Linked DNA regions of Homo sapiens: region 2 is linked to region 1. The links come from fine-mapping of genetic effects on gene expression. A gene starts in region 1. The other region holds a variant in brackets. All regions are shown on one strand. Distances are between the middles of the regions.

Evidence for each region.
Region 2: its variant is fine-mapped to the expression of SMYD2 in aorta (GTEx, PIP above 0.99).

Annotation. Positions count from the first base shown.
Region 1 is chr1:214,275,079-214,285,714 of GRCh38, forward strand. SMYD2 (SET and MYND domain containing 2) reads left to right here and starts at 6,081. Exons shown (of 12, transcript NM_020197.3): 1 at 6,081-6,349. The coding sequence starts at 6,177. It overlaps LOC124904509 (a long non-coding RNA gene), which reads right to left and starts at 5,958. Exons shown (of 2, transcript XR_007066876.1): 1 at 3,636-5,958. RefSeq lists an enhancer at 5,036-5,601 and silencers at 5,881-6,170, 6,191-6,310, 6,341-6,500.
Region 2 is chr1:214,323,510-214,335,395 of GRCh38, forward strand. It overlaps SMYD2 (SET and MYND domain containing 2), which reads left to right. Exons shown (of 12, transcript NM_020197.3): 6 at 1,132-1,199; 7 at 4,113-4,215; 8 at 6,659-6,769; 9 at 7,441-7,561; 10 at 8,509-8,683; 11 at 10,691-10,799. Among named protein-coding and RNA genes, the nearest start is that of SMYD2, 48 kb to the left of the region's middle. RefSeq lists a silencer at 5,337-5,631 and an enhancer at 5,558-5,647. The variant T/G (reference allele first, on the strand shown) is at 6,637.

The DNA.
Region 1 (10,636 bases):
TAGCTCCTAGGCTCATGGGTTTCATGATGGGGCCCACTCCTGCCCATCCACCTTCATCCCAAGTACTCTAAGGAAAGCTGTAGCTCTGGCTGAACAGAGAGGCAGCATGGTGGAGTGGTTCTGAGCCTGGACTCACTGCTAGACAGCTTGTTCATACATGTCACTTCTGTGATTCTGTGTCTGGAATTTATTCCTTCCGGTGGGTTCTTGGTCTCGCTGACTTCAAGAATGAAGCTGCAGACCCTCGCCATGAGTGTTACAGTTCTTAAAGATGGTGTGTCCGGAGTTTGTTCCTTCAGATGTTCAGATGTGTCTGGAGTTTCTTCCTGGGGTAGGTGCATGGTCTCGCTGACTTCAGGGGTGAAGCCACAGACCTTCGCAGTCAGTGTTACAGCTCTTAAAGGTGGCGCGTCCGGAGTTGTTTGTTCCTCCTGGTGGGTTCATGGTCTCGCTGACTTCAGGAATGAAGCCGCAGACCCTTGCAGTGAGTGTTACAGCTCATAAAGGTAGTGCACATCCAGAGTCAGGAGCAGCAAGATTTATTGTGAAGCGCAAAAGAACAAAGCTTCCACAGTGTGGAAGGGGACCCGAGCGGGTTGCCACTGCTGGCCTGGGTGGCCAGCTTTTATTCCCTTATTTGGCCCCGCCCACATCCTGCTGATCGGTCCATTTTACAGAAAGCTGATTGGTCCATTTTACAGAGTGCTGACTGGTATACTTACAATCCTTTAGCTAGACACAGAGTGCTGATTGTTGCATTTACAATCCTTTAGCTAGACACAGAGCACTGACTGGTGCGTTTTTACAGAGTGCTGATTGGTGCATTTACAATCCTCTAGCTAGACACAGAGCACTGATTGGTGTGTTTTTACAGAGTCCTGACTGGTGCATTTACAATCCTCTAGCTAGACAGAAAAGTTCTCCAAGCCCCCACTCGACCCAGGAAGTCCAGCTAGCTTCACCTCTCAATTTGGTATTCTCCTCTGTGGAATGTCATTAGAAGGATTATATGAGAATATATTTTAAAGGTACACCTGGTACATAGTGAGAGCTATGGAAACATTCGTTAAGTCCAAGAAAAATTGTCCATTGGACTGTCAAAGTCTCTCCTACCCCAGTGAATTTCAACTGTGGTCTTTATTATTTATTTATTTATTGAGACAGTCTCACTCTGTGGCTAGGCTGGAGTGCAATAGCACAATCTGGGCTCACTGCAACCTCCACCTCCCGGTTTCAAGGTATTCTCCTGCCTCAGCCTCCCAAGTGGCTGGGATTACAGGCACACACCACCACACCTGGCTAATTTTTTGCATTTTTAGTAGTGACGGGATTTCACCGTGTTGGCCAGGATGGTCTCAGTCTCCTGACCTTGTGATCCACCGGCCTCAGCCTCCCCAAGTGCGGAGATTACACGTGTGAGCCACCATTCCCAGCCTATTTTTTTTATTTTTGAGACAAGGCTTAGCTCCATTGCCCAGGCTGGAGTGCAGTGGCATGATCAAAGCTCACTGAAACCTCTGCCTCCCAGGCTCAGGCGATCCTCCTTCCTCAGCCTCCTGATTAGCTGGGACTACAGGTGCATGCCACCACGCCCAGCTAATGTGTTGCTCTTGTTGTAGAGATGGGGTTTCATCACATTGCCAAGGTTGGTCTCAAACTCTTGGGCTCGAGTGATCCACCTACCTCAGCCTCCTAAACTGCTGGGATTACAGGCATGAGCCACCATGCCCAGCTCTGCACTGTTAGTCTTAAGCCCATTTTGGGAACTTTGCTTTCCCTTGGTCAATCTTTCCTCTTCCTTCTAGAAGCTAAAATGTCAGGTTCTCTGTGAAGCCTTCCTACTGCACTTTGTTCAGCTCCCTATTAAAATTTTATTGGATTATTTTATTAGCTCCCTGTGGCTGCTATGACAAATTACCACAAAACAGGTGTCTTAAAACAACAGAAATTTATTCTCTCATAGTTCTAGAGGCCAGAAGTCTGAAATTAGATTAACAGGCTGAAGTGAGGGTATTGGCAAAGCCACACTCCCTCCCGAGGCTCTAGGGGAAAGGTGTTCCTTGCCTCTTCCAGCTCTGGTGGCTGCCAGCATTCCTTAGCCCATCACTGTATCCCTCTCATCACTGCCTCCATAGTCACATTGCTGCCTCCTCTCCTGTCTGTGTCAAATTTCCTTCTGTCCTTCATCAGAAAACTTGCAACTGCACAGAGAACCCACCTGGATGTTCCAGGATACTCTCACTCTCTCAAGATCCTTAAAACACATTTGCAAGACCCTTTGAAGCCATTTATAGATTCCAGGGATTGGAACCTAATATCTATGAGTGCCAACATTCAGCACTTCATAACTGTTTTCATGTATGTTGGTCTTTACACCTTGGTATGACTAGGATCTATCACAGTGTAAGTACATAGTATGTCCTCAATAAGTGACATGTAGACATAGATGCAGAACTATACAGCATCTAGGCCCTTTGCTCACGTTCACTGGGATACCTTCTTTGCTAAGGCTTCATTTCCCTAGGCCAGAGCTATTTCTTTCATGTGCTAATCTGTGGTTGGAAGGATCTTTTACTCATAAATTAGATCAACTTCTAGGTTAGAGAAATTAAGCAAAGGAGTTTTCGTCCTTGTACCACTTCTCCTGAGTTTCAGTGAGGCAAAGTAACCAAAAACACTCCTTTCAAATTCCATACCTCCTACGTTATGGAGCAGAGGGCGTAGGAAAAGTGGATGGGTCCTGGCTGCTCAAAGACTTCACGGAATGTGAGATTACAGAGTGGCAGAGTGACAAGTATGGGCTTCATGAAGAGCGCTGTCATCAGTCTCCCCGGGCTGGTTTATTGCCATTCTTTGGCTGTTTATTTTAAACACAGTTTTCTTAGTAATTTAAGCTCCTAAATTCATGGCTACTGCTTCAGTGACCATTTCCCCATCTCGAGTCATTTAAGTTCATCACAGGGATTTTTCTGAAATGAGGCGGTTTCTTTTCCAGTGTTCTCAAATCACAGTCACCTCCACCCTCAAGAATAAGCCAGCACTCATCTGGAAAGATAATTCGGTAGCTATGTAATTGCTTTTTTCTCAGCTGTGGAAATCTTTCCCAATTAAAGTGGAAAAAGTTACTTGCAATAAAAAAAGTAAACAGGTAGATTACTTTGCACAATTAATCATTGAAACAGTAAACTGTCTACTGTATTGTAATTGTTTACTTCTACGTCAGTCTTTTCATCTTTTTGCTGGTTAGAGCCCCCAGAAATCAGAATGAGATTCCATGACGTTTATTCAACCTTTAAATATTTTTTCCATTCTCTCTGTGTTCCAGGAGTAGTGATAAGAGCTGGTGATGTAAGGGTAACAAAAACAGACTCATTCCCTGCCCTCATGGAGCTTGTACAGTCTGGTGGAGGATGTAAACACTAATCAGGTCATCACACAGACAAATGCAAACTGTCAGTGGTCTCACATGCCAAGGCTGTTTATATACATGTAAACAGTTATGAAGTGCTGAATGTTGGCACCCCAGCCAACCCACAATGCTGCTGGCAGATCAGTCTAAAACACTGGACTCAATGTGCCACCCCTCACTTAAACGCTTTAACTGGCTCTCCCATGGCCTCTGGGGCAGAACTCACCTCTGGAGAAGATGCTCTTCAGCTGTTCCTGCCTCATTTCCTGTCCTCTCTTCCAGATGCTCAGGGGCCCCCAACTACAAGCTCTGTGCTTTCAGGGTCTTCTGTCTTTGTACGCAGTTCTCTCTGCCCAGAAAACTCTTCTCCCCACCTCCACTTGCAAAATCCTGTCCATCCTTCAGGCTCAGCTCTAACGTTACTTGAATGTGATGCCTGTCTTGACTGTTTAGCAGGCTAAAGCTGTCACTCCCTGCCTGTACTACCACAGAACATTTTGTACAAGCCACCATAACTGCACTTATCCCAGTGAACTGTGTTTGTTTGCAGCAAAACACTGTGGTTAGGAACATGGACCTTGAATTCAGACTGACTTGGAAACCAAATTCTGCAATTTATTGTGTGGCCTTGAAAATCATTCCTTCTGGGTCTTAGTTTCCTTCCTAATTTTGGCAATGAGGGGCATAATACCTAACTCATTAGCCTGTTGTAAAGATAAACCAGATAATGTGTTTAATGATGGAGCACGATGCCTGGTCAACAATACTCAATAACTAATGGTATTATCAAACTTGAATGTGCCAAATGCAAGGACCTAGGACTACATTTTGTCCACTTTTTTTTTTTTTTTTTTTTTGAGACAGAGTTTCGCTCTTCTTGCGCAGGCTGGAGTGCAATGGTGCGATTTTGGCTCACAGCAACCTCCACCTCCCAGGTTCAAGCGATTCTCCTGCCTCAGCCTCCCGAGTAGCTGGGATTACAGGCATGCACCACCACACCTGGCTAATTTTGTATTTTTAGTAGAGATGAGGTTTCTCCATGTTGGTCAGGCTGGTCTTGAACTCTCGACCTCAGGTGATCCGCCTACCTCGGCCTCCCAAAGTGCTGGGATTACAGGCGTGAGCCACCACAGCCGGCTGATGTCCATCTTTCTATCCCAGTTGCTGGCCATAGTCAGTCGAAGTTTCTTAAAATGCATAAATGAAAATACTATCATAACTTCCTTTACTTGAAGACGGGTTAGAGGCTTATTTAGTTTGCCACTAATAAGGGCTTTTTTGTTTTCTTTTGAGACAAGGTCCTGCTCTGTCACCCAGGCTGGAGTATAATGGAGTCACCACAGCTCACTGCAACCTTGACTTCCCAGGCTCAAGCTATCCTCCCACCTCAGCACCACTTGAGAGGTGGTTAATTTCCCATAGAGACGGGGTCTTTATGTTGCCCAAGCTGGTCTCCAACTCTCCAATTCCTGGGCTCAAATGATCCTCCCACCTTGGCCTCCCACAGTGTTGGGATTACAGGGCTGAGCCACCACACCCAGCTGATAAAGACATTTTACTGAAATGCCAAAAATTCCACTGATTTTACATCTCCAATCATATTAATCCTTTCCCTTTGCTCAACCAGTCCTGAACTTACACAGGTAACTGTTTGAGGTCCTATTTTGAAGTAGTGGTTTCTGCTAAATGATCTCGTCACAATTTTAGTCTTTACTGCATGTACATCAATTCCAGTCTTTACATAATCATGTGGAACACGGATTATATTTTCCTTTCTCATATGAAAAGTAATAGCGTGCATGTGTATAGGATTTACGTTTCAGGCTTTGTGGGCTTTAAATCCTTTGACTCCTAACCCAAGTGACTTTTCTAAGATCACAGTTCGTGGGTGGTCAAGCATATTAAAACTACTGCAAACTCTAGCGCAGTGTCCTGGACACTGGCCACAGCATCGCATTATCCCCCAACAGCCTAAATTCCTTGAAGGCAAGGTTCTCTCTGGCTTCCTCTGCAACGTTCGCAGCATGCCTCAGAGACTCGGTGAGCTGGGCCGGCCAATGCATTTCCTCTTCCGTCCATGTAATTCCACTAGAGGAGCAGAGGGCAAACTACGTTCCCATTAAAGCCACAAGGTTTAAAAACCTCTAACCTTGGAAAAGCACACTTCAACCCTCTGCACACCAAACTTCTCTACTGTGGTTTCCCCTCTGCCGCTTTCTCCTTGGCGTTCCCCGATCACTGCCTCTAGGGTCTTTACAAGGGACAGCGAACGTAAGGTTTCGGAGCTGGCTTCGCCCCCTTCTATTTACCGGGGGCTGGTCATCCTTCGGGCCAGGCTGACTGTCTAGGGGTGGCCCTCGGATACCTGGTCCCCGCAGGTGACCCCCCTCCCTCCCACCGAGGAGGAGGGCGCGTCCCGCTCGCTCCGTGGAGACGCCGCGGAGGCGCACACGCCTCACGCCTCCTCGCAGAAGCCACAGGGGCTGCGGCTCTTTGTCGCGGCCACACCGGAAACGGCCCGGAGCGCGCGCGGGGCGGCCGCCGAGGGTCGCGGCGCTAGGCGGGGCCGCCGGGCCCGTCCCCCTCCCCGCGGGGGCGCGCGAGGCCCGGGCGGGGCCGCCCTCCCTTCCGGGGAGCGGGGAGCCGCCGCCGCGTCCGCCGGGCGGCTCCCACCCCGCCCCCCGCAGCTCTAGGTGACGCGTCTCCAATAACAGCTCGCCGGGAGCCGCAGCTCGGGCACAGCCGGCGGCCGCGCCCCGCCGCCACCATGAGGGCCGAGGGCCTCGGCGGCCTGGAGCGCTTCTGCAGCCCGGGCAAAGGCCGGGGGCTGCGGGCTCTGCAGCCCTTCCAGGTGGGGGACTTGCTGTTCTCCTGCCCGGCCTATGCCTACGTGCTCACGGTCAACGAGCGGGGCAACCACTGCGAGTACTGCTTCACCAGGTAGGGCGGCGGCGGCGGCGGCGGCGGGCGGGAGCCGGGGGCGCCGAGCGGGAGGCTTGGACGGCGGCGCCAGGAAGTGCGTGCGGCTCGCGGGGTCCTAGCGCCGGCCCTTGGGGCGGGGTGGGGGGCGGGGAGGGGAGGAGGCCCCGCGCTGCGGCCCCGCGCTGCAGCCCCACGCCAGGCGCCACGTGCGAGAGGAAACAGGACCGGTGCCCCGCTGCACGCCCTGCACTGCACGTTTTCAGAGTTGCTCACGCTGGATGCGCAAACCCGGGCGTGCAGGTTCCTGCCCTCAAATGTGGGCTCCGAGCCAGGCTTGTTCCAAGCCTGGGCACTCACTGCCCTCCCGGTGCATTGGCAGCGGAGCCCCAAATTTGGGCAGCCACGGGCTGTCACCTTTAACTTATGCTTCCTGCGGTGTGTTCTGTTACCCACAGTCCAGCCCTGCCTCAGATTGGCCGTTTCTTCCAAGGAATTTAATGACTTAGTATATGTCTTGTAAAGTACGCTTACATGTTAAAGTACGCTTACATGGGTGTTTGGAGGGACGCCAGTGGGCACTGACCACACCCCCTGGATTCTGAGGTGCTGCGACGATGAGTTGCAGTGTCCAGTTTCGGTTTGGGATTAGGAAAACATGGTCGCAGGAAGGGATTGGGCAAGATGTGTGGTTGCTAATGGTATTTAATTGTAAGATACCATATGTATATATGTGTCTGTGTTTGTATATATGATGCATATACATTTGCACACACCAACACATAATTATATCCTCAACTCTTATGAGAGTTTCAGAGCTTAAAGGCACATTAGAAATCACCAATTCAGTCTTGTCTTTCACTTAATGGATGAGAAAACTAAAGCCCAGAGAGAAAGTGGAGTTACCTTTATCCATTCACACCAGTAGTGAAGGGAGTGAAATCTGGCCTTATTCACTTCTGCCTATTTCTCACTGGTTAGGTGCTCAGTAAATTTACTAAGGCAGGAGGCATGGCATTGGGGTTAAGTTTATATCAGGCCTTCCAGTACTCTGAGTAGAGACCATGATTTGCTTTCTTTGAACCTCAGTTTCTTCATCTTTGAAATGGAGATTCCTGGGCTGGATTAAGCTGACCTGCGGTCCTGCAGGGACCTTTTGAGTACAGGTCTCAAGTCCAGCATACTCAATCTCTCAGACCTGTGTGCCTCATTCTACAATAAGACGTAGCAAAAGAAGGGACAAAGGCTAAATATTGTAGTAATCTTGCCCAGACTCCCTGCCAGAACTGTCTTCCGCTTGGGGGGACCTGGAAAGGAACTAGACACGGAATCATGCCGTGGGCAGCTTAAGGGCTGTATGTGATGTGGCTCTTTGAATTGGTGAGCCAAGAGCTAAAGGGTCATGGCACCACTTTGCAACGTTTGAGTGAAGTGAGCATTGGGTTTTCCCAAAGTTAAAAAGGCTGCTGTGACTGGTCCCTTGATCTTCTGAGCCTTGCTGTGGCTCGGAGTCTGCAGCAGCGTGGGTGTCTGCAGTGGCAGGAGCAAAGCAGGTCAGGCAGCACAGAAGGAGCCTCCATCAGGGATCCTGGCAATTCCTGGAAGCCATCGCCTAAGACCATGGATGCCAGGCACATAGTAGGTGCTTACTTTATATGGGTAGTTGCCAGCCCTGGCCCCCAGTGAATGAAAGATCAAATCCCTCTGGATTTAGAAGGGATGAGAAGAACTGAGAGATGCTTCTCTTTAGCTTTAAGTCTCCTAATTGTATCTACTACGCATACCCCCAACCTTAGAACATTAATGGATGGTCAGATGCAAGTTCACAAAGCATTCAGCCTGGATTATTCTGCCATATGTGACAGTTTGCTGCCTCTTTTGTTGTTAAATTTTTCTGATTGACATTTATTAGTGTTACTCACTGTTGCCTTGGGTCCCTCACCAGGGCTGCAACTTGCAATGGGGTGTTATTACAACTTGCAAACCACTTCTCTGTTTGATTTCCCTGACCTTATGTCAATACCCGTAGTTTATTTCCTCTCTCTCCCCAAAGAATTATTTGAAGTCAATTAAAATAATACAAAAGAAATAATATCCATGATACTTATGCAATTAGAAATATCCTTGTACCCTACTTCATGATTTCTATTAAATCTGAATCATTTACTATTAGTGGTTAGGTCATCTGATAGATTCAGCATCAGTTCCTCTGTCAGCAATTTGTATATGACTTAGGACAAATCAGTCTGTCCAGATGTATGAGGGGAACGTGTATTTTCCTCCATAGGGCCTCAAAGTATAGGAGTAGAATTCTGGAAATGTTCATACTTACAGGTCAAAATCTGCTGCCTGCCCCAGCTCCACACACCCAAAAGAAAGCTACCCCTTATCCTTTCTTTTGCCAGAAGTTTAACATAAACAATACTGCTTAAGATAAATGAATGACCCAAGAATTTCCATGTCATACTAATTGTATCAGGATCTAACTTTTTTTGAAGAAAAGAAAAGTGATTTCTTTAGGTAGGAATAAGTATATGCTATAAATTGAGAAATAATGGAAAATGTCTTAAGTCTCAACAGAATGGGATTCTTACGGTCAGGGCAATTCAGACAAAGGTTTGCTTTGGGGAATTTTTAATTTGTATCACATTTCTCAGTCTGGTGGGTGCCATTGGAGAACATGCGTATCTTGCCTGAACTGCTAGAAGGCAGCTCCTAATAATATTATATAAAGTTTTTCCACTTGGAAGCTGTCCCTATCAGACTTCTCAGATACACTTTATACACACATACACACATAAATGCACACATACACATTTTGGCCATTTATCACCATTTTTTGGTGTGGTTTTTTTTTTTTTTTTTTTTTTTGAGACAGAGTTTCGCTCTTGTTGCCCAGGCTGGAGTGCAGTGGCGTGATCTCAGCTCACCACAACCTCCACCTCCCCGGTTCAAGCAATTCCTCTGCCTCAGCCTCCCGAGTAGCTGGGATTACAGGAATGCGTCACCACACCTGGCTAATTTTGTATTTTTAGTAGAGACAGGGTTTCTCCATGTTGGTCAGGCTGGTCTCAAACTCCCGGCCTCCCAAAGTGCTGGGATTACAGGCATGAGCCACTGCGCCGGGCCAAGTATGTTGTATTTTAAACTAAGTTTTAGACTTTTTTTTTTTTTTGAAACAGTCTCGTCTCACTCTGTTGCCCAGGCTGGAGTGCAGTGGCACGATCTTGGCTCACTGCAACCTCCGCCTCCCGGGTTCAAGTGATTTCCGACTAATTTTTGTATTTTTAGTAGAGACAGGGTTTCATCATGTTGGCCAGGCTGGTCTCGAACTCCTGACCTCAAGTGATCCACCCACCTCAGCCTCTCAAAGTGCTAGGATTACAGGCGTGAGCCACCGTGCCTGGCCTAGACATATTTTAACCCCCAATGTGATTTGTCTCAGAAGGAGAGAAATCTGCTTTAACCCAGTGTTCCATCTAAATATTCATTCTATGTGCCATTCTTCAGGTAGGCAGATCTTTTGATCTTTAGTCTCCCTTTTGATCTTTAGTTCTCTTGGCTCATGGGTTATTTAAGGATGAGATTATTGACATTTCTTTGTTTGTTCTGAGTGTAGGGGGAACCAGGAAAGCCCATTTAGCCTCCTTGGAATAGAGCTGTTAGAACCCAGTTTCAGTGAATTTCGGTCATGTCTGGCTTAGATTAGTTGTTTTAAAAATTAAATTGTTTGCCTGAGCCAAACCCTGTGATTAAGGTGTCCTATTTCAGCAGTTATAAAGGCTTTTTTTCCTCATGTCCCCCAGATTTATTCTCTAGCGTATTCATCTTAGCTTTCCTCTTGTTTTATCAAACCGGCAGAATAATTTTTAGTTGATCTTAATCAGTATTAAGGGCCATGAAATCCTGATGCTGTTTTCCTGAAGTTCTCTGAACTAGCCCTGGTTCTGGCTGCCTGAAGCTGTGCATGAGAAGGGGACCTTGTGCCCAGGACTGCTATGACTCTGGCTCTCCTGAGAATGCTTTGAGAGTTGTTTTGGGGGAGAAATGGCTTCAGATGTATTTAAATCATCATGTTTTCTGAATAAAAAAATTGAATACATGCTCTAATAAAGGGGTTCCCCTTCTTTTTTAGATGTATTTTTATAAAATAGGTGGTAAGACTAAAACATACATACAACAGATTTCCTGTAAAAAGTGCCATTAAAGAATGCAAAATTCAGCTATCTGTATGTTAGGTAAGGAAATGGCTGTTTTCACTTTCCACCTTTCAGTATTTCAAGGTTTCCATGTACATTAATGCATAAC
Region 2 (11,886 bases), 49 kb after region 1:
CAACCTCCACCTCCCAGGTTCAAGTGATCTTCCTGCCTCAGCCTCCCGAGTAGATGGAACAGCTGGGATTACAGGTGCATGCCACCAGATCCAGCTAATTTTTGTATTTTTAGTAGAGACAGGGTTTTACCATGTTGGCCAGACTGGTCTTGAACTCCTGACCTCAGGTGATCTGCCCACCTTGGACTCCCAAAGTGCTGGGATTACAGGCGTGAGCCAGCGGGCCCGTACAACGTTTCTTTTAAAGGGTGAGAAGGTGGCCTGTAGGTGATTTGGCTGAGACTTGAAAGGCAAGGTCTCAGTGCCTTAGCTTTAAGCCCTCAATCCCTCTGCCTCCCTAACAGAGAGAGGGATAGCAGTTAGATTAGATGAATAAGGGCTTCATATTTACCACCTCACCTTATGAGATGAGCATTGGATTGATTCCTTTTTTTTGAGACAGAGTTTCGCTGTTGTTGCCCAGGCTGGAGTGCAATGGCACAATCTTGGCTTACTGCAGCCTCCGCCTCCTGGGTTCAAATGATTCTCCTGCCTCAGCCTCCCAAGTAGCTGGGATTACAGGCATGCGCCACCACGCCTGGATAATTTTGTATTTGTATTTTTTTTTAGTAGAGATGGGGTTTCTCCATGTTGGTCAGGCTGGTTTCGAACTCCCGACCTCAGGTGATCTGCCCGCCTCAGCTTCCTAAAGTGCTGAGATTACAGGCGTGAGCTACCACGCCCAGCCAGATTGATTCTTTTCTTTAAAGACACAGTGATTCAGTGATAGGCTTAAGATCATACAACAAAGCTGTAGCAGAATTGAGATTAGACTCCAGGTATCTTAACTCCCATGCAAGTGTGCAAACGTCAGTCCTCAGAGTCTTGGGGGTCTTTGGCGTGCCTGGACCACTGTATTTAGATGGTAGGTAGGCTACACTAAGGGATGCATCACAATTCTGCTTGTTTGTTTATGCATGGAACTGATAAGTAAATTTTGTTTGAACGATAACATGGGCAAAAGAAAGGGTTTAAAACCACTACACCAAAACATCTTCCTAATTTGTTAAAAGTCAAAATTTAAAAAAATGATCTCTACCCAGAAAGAAGCTCCAGCTCATTTTTTTCCTTTCTCCCTTTTTCTTGCTGCAGGTTAACTGTAATGGCTTCACAATTGAAGATGAAGAACTTTCTCATTTGGGATCAGCGATATTTCCTGAGTAGGCTGTGTTTGACTTCATTTCTTTCCTTTTTACTTACTTAACACTAATTTGATTTTTTTTTCATTTTTAAATAACCCACCTAACTGCATGTGGCAGACATGAAACTCAAAGTGAATTAAAACAGCTTTTTAATCTGCCAGATTTCAAAATATTTCCCCTACACTTAAGGATCCAAAGGTAGTAGTTAAGAGAACAGTTGCTTGTTAAGTCCTGCTAGGCAGAGAGCTGTTATTAAAGAATATTTTATAGCGCGCATAGAAGGAACAGCTCATGCCCTGCTGAGAAATTTGCTTTCTGCCTATCTGTGGTTCTGGAAATCTTTCCATTTCTTATGCTCAAAGTGAAACATTAATTGCCAACCAAGAATTGGCCACAAGCTTGAGTACAGACTATATGAGCTTCTTCTCCATCTGTCCTTTTTGATAAATACCAGTACAGAAACAGCACAATTTGGAGGGAGAATATGCTGAAGTAGTGGGCCGGATAAAAATTTCAAAGAACTGTAGGATTTTCTCTGGATTTGAAGAATACTTGAGTAATTCAGCAAAGGCTAGCCAGTTGACAAATGGAGATCTTTATAGATCTGACTTTAATGGATTGCCAAGAATGATTTTGCCTTTGTCTGTCTCATGGAGTGAGTATTTCCAAAATGCTTCAGTCCCTGAAATCAAACCCTTGCTTCACAGATAGAGCCAAGGAATTCATCATGCATCCCCCCAGCCTCCAAATTAATCCACATTGTAGATAAGTTCTATCCAGAGGGAGGTTGCTTAACATATACTGCAGGGGCCTTTGCCTGTAGGTTGCCACATAGGTAGGAAACCCTTAATACTCATGCATTTGCCCTGAGTGATGTGCCTGCCCTTAGCTATGTGCGTCTCTGCCAGACGCTGTGCGTTGTGTAGGTCAGAAAGAGAAGAATCCGTACAGTCTGTGTCTCGTGAGCAGCTGTCACAGGTTTACTTGAACCAGAGAGACTAAAAAGTTTGTTCATGTAATATTTGTCCTTGGGGCCAAAATGGCATCATCTGCAGTTGGAATTCTGGAAGTGAGGAAAGAAGCTTTTTTTTTTTTTTTTTTTTTTTAACTTTGGCCCCTGGGAAAAGGCAGGAGAAAAAGAGGGCATTGGACCCACTGAAGAAGGCGTGTATTGACACCTTTATAACTGAAATGAACTATGGAATGTCTCTGTTCTTAATATCTTAAAAGACTAAAAGATTAAGAGTAAGGTGCTGCCGGGCACGCCTTACAGGTGTGGTGGCTCACACCTATAATCCCAGCACTTTGGGAGGCCGAAGCGGGCAGATCACGAGGTCAGGAGTTGGAGACCAGCCTGACCAACATGGTGAAACCCCGTCTCTACTAAAAATACAAAAATTAGCTGGGCATGGTGGCGCACACCTGTAATCCCAGCTACTCAGGAGGCTGAGGCAGCAGAATCACTTGAACCCGGGAGGTGGAGGTTGCAGTGAGCTGAGATCGCGCCACTGCACTCCAGCCTGGACAACAAACCGAGACTCCATCTCAAAAAAAAAAAAAAAAAAAGAGTGAGGTGCTTTGAGGATTCTCACCTGTCAGTGGTTGCCAACAGAATTATGATACCAAGAACATGAATTGTTTTAGGGTCTTTGACTTAGTGCATTTCCCCCACCTTCATTAAAGAGATACCCGAGTCTGCCTTCAGCTATTTAATACTTCCGCAAGATGGTTTTAGAAATGTGCTTTTATTTTAATACAACTACCCTTCGATGCATTTGTTTATTTGATTTCCTAGGACCTGATTCCTTGGGCATCACTTTCCAGGAAGCCAAGTGGGCCTTGGTGCAGTGCAGAGGTGGCCCTCCCCGAGGTCAAGACCAGGAAGCTGCTACCTGTTTATCTCAGGCACCAGGCTAACCACATACTTTGCTTAGGCCTTTAGCAGCCAGGAGGTGGGGGAGTGCACTTGGCCATAGGCCATAGCCAGCCTGGGGCAGTTCATCCTCATCAGGCTTCGAAACCCCTTTCCCTTTTTGTATTCTCGGAGCAAGCAGGAGAGGGGCTGTGGTCTCTGGAGGGTCAGGGAGGTGACATTGGCCACCAGAGCAATGACACACATGGCTGTGAGTGCCCGTAGGAGCATGAGCCCCAGTTTCTGGGCAGTTTTAATTGGGGGAAAAAATCCCTTTGGGCTGAAATCATATCAGCATTGTGATTTCAAAGGCAGCATTTTCAGAGATCAAGCACTTTTTCCCTGTAGTTTAGAAATTTCTGTTCTCAGAACTTTGACCTTCATATAATCAGAAAGCTCAAAGCACCTCGCATAGGCGAATCTCTCTCTCTCCTTCTCGCTGTCCCTGAAAAGCAGACAGTGAGCAGCAGGAGCAGTAATGTCCCAATTTTCCAGATGAGGAAATTGAGGTGCAGAGAAACTCAGACGGGTGTCTCCGGGTCTCTCAGGGGATCACACACCCTTCCTCCCTTAGGAAGCTGGCATTTCTCAACATCTGAAAAAAACGTGAGAAATAATCCACTAATACAAAAAGCTGCTTGAAAGCGACAACGCACCTGTGTTTGACAGTGTATAGTGAAGTAGCAATTAGCTGTGGGTATTGGGTTCTGAGAGCTGCATTCTATCAGGGAGGAATATTTGTGGCATTTGTTGTTTTTGCTGTTGTGTGTTTTTTGGTTTTGGCTTAGATAGTACTTGAATTGTGGATTTCAGTTTTTAATATGGTGAAAGTGTGAGATGGTAGATAGGATTATCAGTGCATGCAGAACAACCTCTTAGAATGTGATAGCCAACTATTAGATTTTTAAAAAATGTCTTGCAAAGATTCAGTTCCTCTGACTTAGCAAGTAAGTAGTGAAGGAAGCTAAACAGTCTGCCTATCTCATTTTAAAAACTGGGTTTTCTCTTCTGACTGACAGTGTTGCATTGATGAATCATAGCTGTTGCCCCAATGTCATTGTGACCTACAAAGGGACCCTGGCAGAAGTCAGAGCTGTACAGGAAATCAAGCCGGGAGAGGAGGTGAGTTCATGGCTATGGGTGGCTGCAGCAGGGGGCTTGAGACTGCTCTTTAAAAGGCAATGTGGACAGATCTGTGCAGTGTCACTTGACAGTATGAGTTGTGAATGCCTCCAGCAGTTTAGCTGAGTCTGCCCTCAGGCTCTCCAGGAGTCAGTGATCAGATTTGTAACCTGTAGTTTAGATTCCCACACTTTGGGGCTTCTGTTTGGTACATACATTTCCATCTCTGGTCAAGAAAAACAGGAAGTAATAAATTTGAGTCAAATTTGTCCCAAAGCTTTATAGAGATTTACAGAGAAAGAAGACATTTACTACCAAAATGACCACAGTCAAACTTTTGATTATCTTTAGAGTCTCTGTATCCCTATTGCCAAACAACTGAGCTTGAGCCTTATTTTATTTTATTTTTTTTGGTGAATTCTTGCTTGTTCCCCACCATCCCTCAAAGGTCCAAAGCAAAAGAAAGCAAGCAACGCAGCAGTAGCTAAAGAGCTGGCACTCCAAGGGACACATCAGAATTTCGTGTTCTATCAGTTCCACATCTGAACTTCAGGTCGCAGTTCACTTTTTAGGAATCTAAATCAAAAGTCCAGGTATATGCAGTAATAGGAGAAGTCAAGGCAGTCTGTGGCCAAGGGGCACCTTAGTTTCCCTCCTCAGCTTCAGGACGTGGAGAGAACCAGTCTTCCCATCACCTGCTCAGCGATTCCCTGTTCCCTTCCCATGTGTGATTCCTGACTACCTCATGAGACGTCTCACCTGGGAAGGGCTGGCCTGATGGATTGCTGTAGTATGCTCTGTGTTCTTAAGTAAATTCCCAGCAAGACACATGAGTTTTTAGGAACTTGTAATCACACTTGGGTTAATTTCAGTTTAGCAATTTGTAATGCTATTTTACGGTGCATGCCTGGGTATTTGAAGTGTGAAGTGTAAAATATAACTGTCAGCGTGCTGAATGACAAGTGCTTTGCTTTCTCTGGAAGGCACTCACTAATCCACAGCTGCACTGGGAGCTGAAGCCCAAGATGCAGGCAGGTTGGCCCTTCTACCTTCAGCTAAATCCATTACGATGAGGGTGTGTCCCCTTTCGGCTGGGGTGTCTGAGTTTCCAAAGGTCTTATGGAGACTGCTCTGAAGCCTTTCTTGAAACAGATAATTGCAGCCAGTCAGAATGCAGTCACCCAGGCTCCAGTGCACCTGTGGGCTGACTGCAGAGATGAGCAGGTTGTCACCTAAGCTGGCTCAGTCTGGCTGGGAGCAGTGGTACTGGAGTGGCCTTTGTCGCCATCTTCTGGAAGCTTCCGCATGTTGCACTGTGAGTCAGTCATTACAGAGATTGTTGGCAGGCTCTTGTGGTGTGAGGCAGGGCAGGGGTGGCTGCAGTTTCCTTTTGCCCTTATGTTCTCCCAGATCTGAAACGCAGTAACCTCATTTTTGGGAAGTCAGTGCTTTGGGGATTACTTACCCTTCAGAGAAGGAGAAACCCCATTCCCCAGGGTTTCGGGGTGAGCTGCAACGTGTCCAGTACCTCCCCATGGGCTGGGGAGAGCTTAGCTGCCCCTGCAGCACCCAGCCCTGTGCGTGTCCTCCCCTGCCTGCCTGGTGGTGCCCGTGGTCACTGGCACGCTAGCGGCTTCATGAGATCCATCTGTTCAGTCAGACATTTGCCTGATTGTGTGGGATGAGTAGCCAGTGCTGTCCCAGTGAGTAGATAATGGACATCTAAATGCTGGTCTCCTCCATATGCTCCAAGCCTTAGTTACAGACCCCATTAGGAAAAGGCAAGGACGGTGGAGCCCCATGAACCAAAGGTAAGGACTTTCCAAGCTCGCTGCCCTGCAGGATCAGGAGCTGCCCGCTGGGCCAGGCCGCAGCATTCTGGTGTCCTAGAAGATGTGTTCACCCTCCGCTGGCCACCCAGAGCTGTGGGTCCCAGCCCACTGAGTGGAGCCTCTTGCTCCATTGCCAGTTGATGTGAGGAGAAGGGGAGCTTAGCTGCATGTGTGTGGTGTGTGCGTGCTCATGCCCTCCCCTGCACGCAGCATCCAGTGATGACGGCAACGAAGCATTTGCGCCGTCTCAGGTGGTGAAACATGAAACTACATGAAGGCCAGGCAGAGGCAGCTGAGGGAGGCAGGGATCCTCTGAACCCTCCAGGACACTGTTTTAAGGACTCCTTGATTCTACAGACTCTTTCCACTAACCTGCACCTTGGCTTCAGCTCCCAGTTCAGCTGTGGATTAGTGAACACCTTCCAGAGAAAGCCAACGTCAGGTGGCTGCTCAGTTCAGGAATTCCGTGCCTTAAAGTAAACAGCGCATTCCTCCGCTGCAGCCCGCCTTATCCTCTGCATGGGCCCTGCAGGTGACTGCAAAGGCACGGGAATGACAAGGATTGAGTTTACCTGTAGCAGACTGAAGC[T/G]TTATCTTTTTGGACCCCGTAGGTTTTTACCAGCTATATTGATCTCCTGTACCCAACGGAAGATAGAAATGACCGGTTAAGAGATTCTTATTTCTTTACCTGTGAGTGCCAGGAGTGTACCACCAAGGACAAGGTAAGGTTGTTCATTGGGCAAGAGCGCTGACTGCACTCTGATCTCAGGACCTCTCTGCTGAAGAGCTTGTCTGACTTGGCGGATCTCCTCTAGGATCTTTTTGACCCTTTAAACCCTCCTTACAAAGACAGCCAAAGGGAATCTAGTTAGACCAGGTCTCTGTTCAGACCTGCTCCTAGTAGCTAAAGAAAACATTTCCATTACACTGTACAAACAGGAGAAAGGTCTGCCGAACTGCTCTTTCTTGAAAAGAAACAACTGCTCAAAGGAGGAGGGGGGAAAAGCACATGAGTATAATCTCTAGGCTTTCCAACCTGTTCACCAGAATATGTGGAAGTTTCCCTGGCATTTTCCAAATTGTTCCGTCAATGCCATCCTTCCTTATTCTAGTCTCTTGATTCGTAGATGTGTAAACACATATATCTGCCCATAGCCAACACATTTTAGATAAGGAGTATCTAGAAAATTAATCTTTTTGTTTTGTTTCTGTAAAAAGGTAATGGAGTACTGAATTTCTTCAGATGCATTGCCTGATTTCCTTTCATTCTTTTGTAACCTTGGAATGGGCCAGTGTCGACCGCTGTGTGGGAATGTGTATTATATGAGAGGTTTCCCTATCAGTGTGGTTTCCATGGGCGGTAACGCCTTGCCCTTGTGGACGTTTCCTTCAGGATAAGGCCAAGGTGGAAATCCGGAAGCTCAGCGATCCCCCAAAGGCAGAAGCCATCCGAGACATGGTCAGATATGCACGCAACGTCATTGAAGAGTTCCGGAGGGCCAAGCACTATAAATATATCCTTTACAACTGCCCTGATAGCTTATTATCCCTCGCCAACAAGGCAAGGTGGGAAGTTGGAAAGAGGGAGCAGGAGAAGGATGGATTTAAGATTCTGAAAACCAAAGGAGGAATGTCTCCTAGTAAATGTGTAAAGGCGTACTGACCACCCACAATGTGGTGTCCATCCTGTTGGAGTTGTATGATTTTATTTCCCCTTATTTTGGCTAGTTTGGCTGGGAGCCCCATGTGGTGGAGGACCATGAAGGACAGAGCCTTGATGGCCTTGTGCTTTGGGTATTTTACTTTGGGCAGGGCACAGTGCCAAGGGCCTTGCTTATTTCAGCTCTCCTCACTGGCACACTCTGAGCAGGGACTCTGCTCATTCCCATGCAGCAGATGAGGAAACAGCCTGATAGATATTAAGTAATTTGCCCAAAGGACACAGCTGATGGTGATAGGATCTAGGATTTTGTCCCAGCTCTATCAGAATCCATATTCTTAACCATTGTATTGTAGCATTTTCTTGGGAGTTGAAAAGGGATTCGATTTGTACTCTAAAGGGTAGAATTTAAAACCAGTGAGAGGAAATGAGAGAAAGGCACATTGTTTCTCAGCATAAGAAAGAACTTTGCCACAGTGGGAGTCGTGCTCAGGGTTCCAACTTGGGTGAGGATTTGAATTTGATTAGAATCGTGATTTTAATCAACATTGTTTACATCAGAACTAGGGGTCTGGACCCTGCGGCTAAAATTCTTGAGTTGAGCGGTTCCGACCTTCAGGTTTTCTTCATTTGTTTTTTCTGGAGAAATGTAATTCCTTTCACTTTTGCTTGGCTTTCTGTAAGTTACTTTTTCATGGGGTAAGGGTGAGAGTGGAGTGGACGAAATAACTCCTTGAACCCAGCCTGGGGAAGCCTCCAGGCAGCTTGGGCCCGGTGGCCCTTTCCTTGACTCCACAGCACCCCCTAGTGAGCTGCTGGAGATCTGCGAGCTCAGCCAGGAGAAGATGAGCTCTGTGTTTGAGGACAGTAACGTGTACATGTTGCACATGATGTACCAGGCCATGGGTGTCTGCTTGTACATGCAGGACTGGGAAGGAGCCCTGCAATATGGACAGAAAATCATTAAGCCCTACAGGTGATTGCAGAGGCTGTTCTAATCATCCACGGAGTGGAATTTGGTTGTTTAGAATGTATACGATAGTGTCATCTTCCTGCCCATTGCTGAGACTTGCCTAGCGCAGCTGCCTCTTCTCTGCACCCACATCTGGAGGTGCTGGTGCAGGGCACTGCTCCCGAGTCAGGCCTGTTCTCACCATCATCCCAAGGAGACAGGTTGAGGTTATGCAGCGGATACTGGGGCAAGATCCCTCCCAGGTCCATCCAGGGCCATATCCATAGTAGTTAACTCAGGCTAGTTTTGAGAAGCCACTAGTTTGCTTCTTTTCCCACCCACTGCTTCCAAGTTTAATTACTAAGTGGTGGTCTCAGAAACCCTGGTTTTCATCATTACTCACACCATCCCCTTCTTTTGCTTTTTCAAATTACAGCCCCAGTTTGCAAATGGGGAAGCTCTGGGACCAGTGGGTTGACCGTGGTTATCTAATCTCCCCACCCCAGGTTTGGAAAAAAGAAACAAAAATTGCTTTTTAATTTGTAGTAATAATGAATATTAGCCCTGGAGAGATTTCCTGCCTGAGAGGGTTACTAAACCTAAAAGTGGGTGACAGACGGAAGTTGTGGCTTTGTCCTCTGACTCGGACTAGACACTTCAGGGCTGAGGTGGCCTAGATGGGATCACTGGAGCTCTTTTTAAAGGCACTGATATTATGCATTTACAGGGTACGTCCAACACCAAGTGGGCCAAGTGAATCAGGGTCGCTGGGCATTAGACCCAGAAATCTGTGTTCTGGAAGCATCCCAGGTGTTTCTCAGGAGTTTGAGAAGCCCTCAGTCTCCTTCCACTTCCGAGATTAGGGTCTGTGAAGGTTGTGTCTGGTCTGAATGTCCACTGCCCACTCCACCCTCTACTTACCCCACTGTGCCCTGATTAGCCAGCAGGGGGAGCCCAAAGGAAGCCAGCTCTTAAAATCTGCTCTTGGAAACAGAATTTGTTAAATTGGGGATAAACTCAAACCTTCCTTTTCTCCTAGAGTGTGTGAGGAAGTGCACTGGCCTCATGCGCAGTTCTCTGTGTGAGATCTGTAGGGAGAGAGGAGCAGACAGACAGCATCCCAGCCCTGTGGTTCTCCCAGCAGGGCCTTGCTCTGCTAGACCCATCTTTATCTGCGTGAGCCCCTCCCGGAAGCCCAGCTCTGGTCTTCTGTGGGGCCGTGGGTCCCAGGGCTGCCTCCTACCCAGGAATACAGCTAGAACATGTCTTTTTGGACTGACTTTCAGGAGACACAGGGTGGAACAGCCTAGCCTTTAAATAAACACCTCTTACACACATGTAAACACACACACTGGCTCACCCACCAGCTGCCTCTGGGCCCTGTTCTTAGGGAAATGGCTGTTTCCCAGGCAGACCCCATCAGTCAGTCTTCAGGTACAGCCGGAGAGAACACTTGCTGTATCTAAAGCCCCTGCTGGACAATGGGGAAAGAACATCCAGAAGACACAGGAAGTGTTCTGACTTCAGAGCACTTAACTGTTTTGCTAAACCAACCCATATCATAGTGTGACAGAAAGCTGGGGTCTTAAGACACATTGGGGTGGGTGGGGGTTGGGTGGGTGGCTGTATGTCTGAGTACCTAAGGTGATAGGCCTAATTGCTGCCTTCATAAATGGGACATTTACTTCACAAGCTGTTTTCCCAGGGTCTTCCTCTGGGTATGTCTGAAATATAAAAATCTGGACTGGGATTGAAGATTGTGTTTACAAATGCTTTTGAATAGGATTTCTCCTGCAGTTGTTACGTAGCTTTTCAGAAACACACAAACTACAAATAATGAACAACATCTGCAATGATTCGGCAGGGTGGCAGCATCCACGCTCTCCACCCAAACCCTGGTGGGATTTGGAGAGGCCGCTGGTGGGCAGAGGTTGGCCCTAAGCATGGCAGCCTCCGGCTTACTGCACCCAGCCTGTGGGGCGGCTCAGTAGCCGCTGACATGGTGGCCTGTTGTCTCTTCTCTTGTTCTAGTAAGCACTATCCTTTGTACTCCCTCAACGTGGCCTCCATGTGGTTGAAGCTAGGGAGACTCTACATGGGCCTGGAACACAAAGCCGCAGGGGAGAAAGCCCTGAAGAAGGTATGTCTGTAACTCGGCCTTAGGATTCCCAGTGGCCAGATGGCCTCCTTAGCGCACCTCCTTCATGCCTCACCAGGCTGAATGGCTGAAGCAGTGGAGGGTGAGCAGCTCTCACCCACCCTCTTGCCGTGGGAGCAGCGGGGGTGGGTCCTGCAGGTGAGGGGGGAGTGAGAGAGTGCACCTCTGCTGTGTTTGTGTCCAGGCCTCCCTCAAAGGGAATGGGTGCCCACATCCAGAGGGCTGGCCGTGATCACAGGCCCAGCCTGTGCCTGGAGGAATTCTCCATTTGTTTGACCTTTGGGATTTTCAGAATGATGATCCCCAGTTGTGAAATCAAGGAGGTAGGATATGGAGAGTTAGGGTTAGGATGTTAGAATTGCGCATTTGCTGTTTCTAAAATGCACTTAATCATCCTCTCAGTTCATTGAGGACCAGTTACATACCAAGACCCTCGTGTGCTTTTCCTTTGAATTCTCACAAAACCGAGAGGCTTTCCTGATGAAGAAAGTGAGGTTCAAGCAGGTTTAAGTGAGTAATAGCCTAGGGTACATGGTGGGGCCTTCATTCAAATGAGGGTCTAAATTGAAAGCTTCGGCTCCTCCCACTCAAGCTGTGATGAAACTGGTGGGGAGCCAGAACCCTGGGCAGCATTCGCCTTTGGTTTGATGGCGGCCCTGTGCTGCCCAGGAGCCAGGCCCCGACCCTCACATCATGGGAGGTCAGAGTCATCATCCTGAGTATTGATTCTCATTGTTTGTGATGTGGAATTCACAGTCAATACAGTGTAATTTAGGGGATAGTCCATTTACTCCTGTAAGAAACTTTATAAAATGCTGGGGCCATGGACAGGGCCTGCAGGCCTAATCTTTCACCTTCTCCAAAGTTTCCCAATAGACTATTTGCGAAGATGGAATAAGGCCCACATCCCAAATAGAAGGGTCAGGGCACAGCCAGGCTGGAAGGGAGCACAGAACAAAATTTTCTGTTTTAAACCATGGAATTTGTCTTCTGAGAATTAGCCATTTGGGTCACAACTGCAAAGTGTGTCAGGTGATTAAGTAATAGATCAATGAAAGCTGGAGCAGAT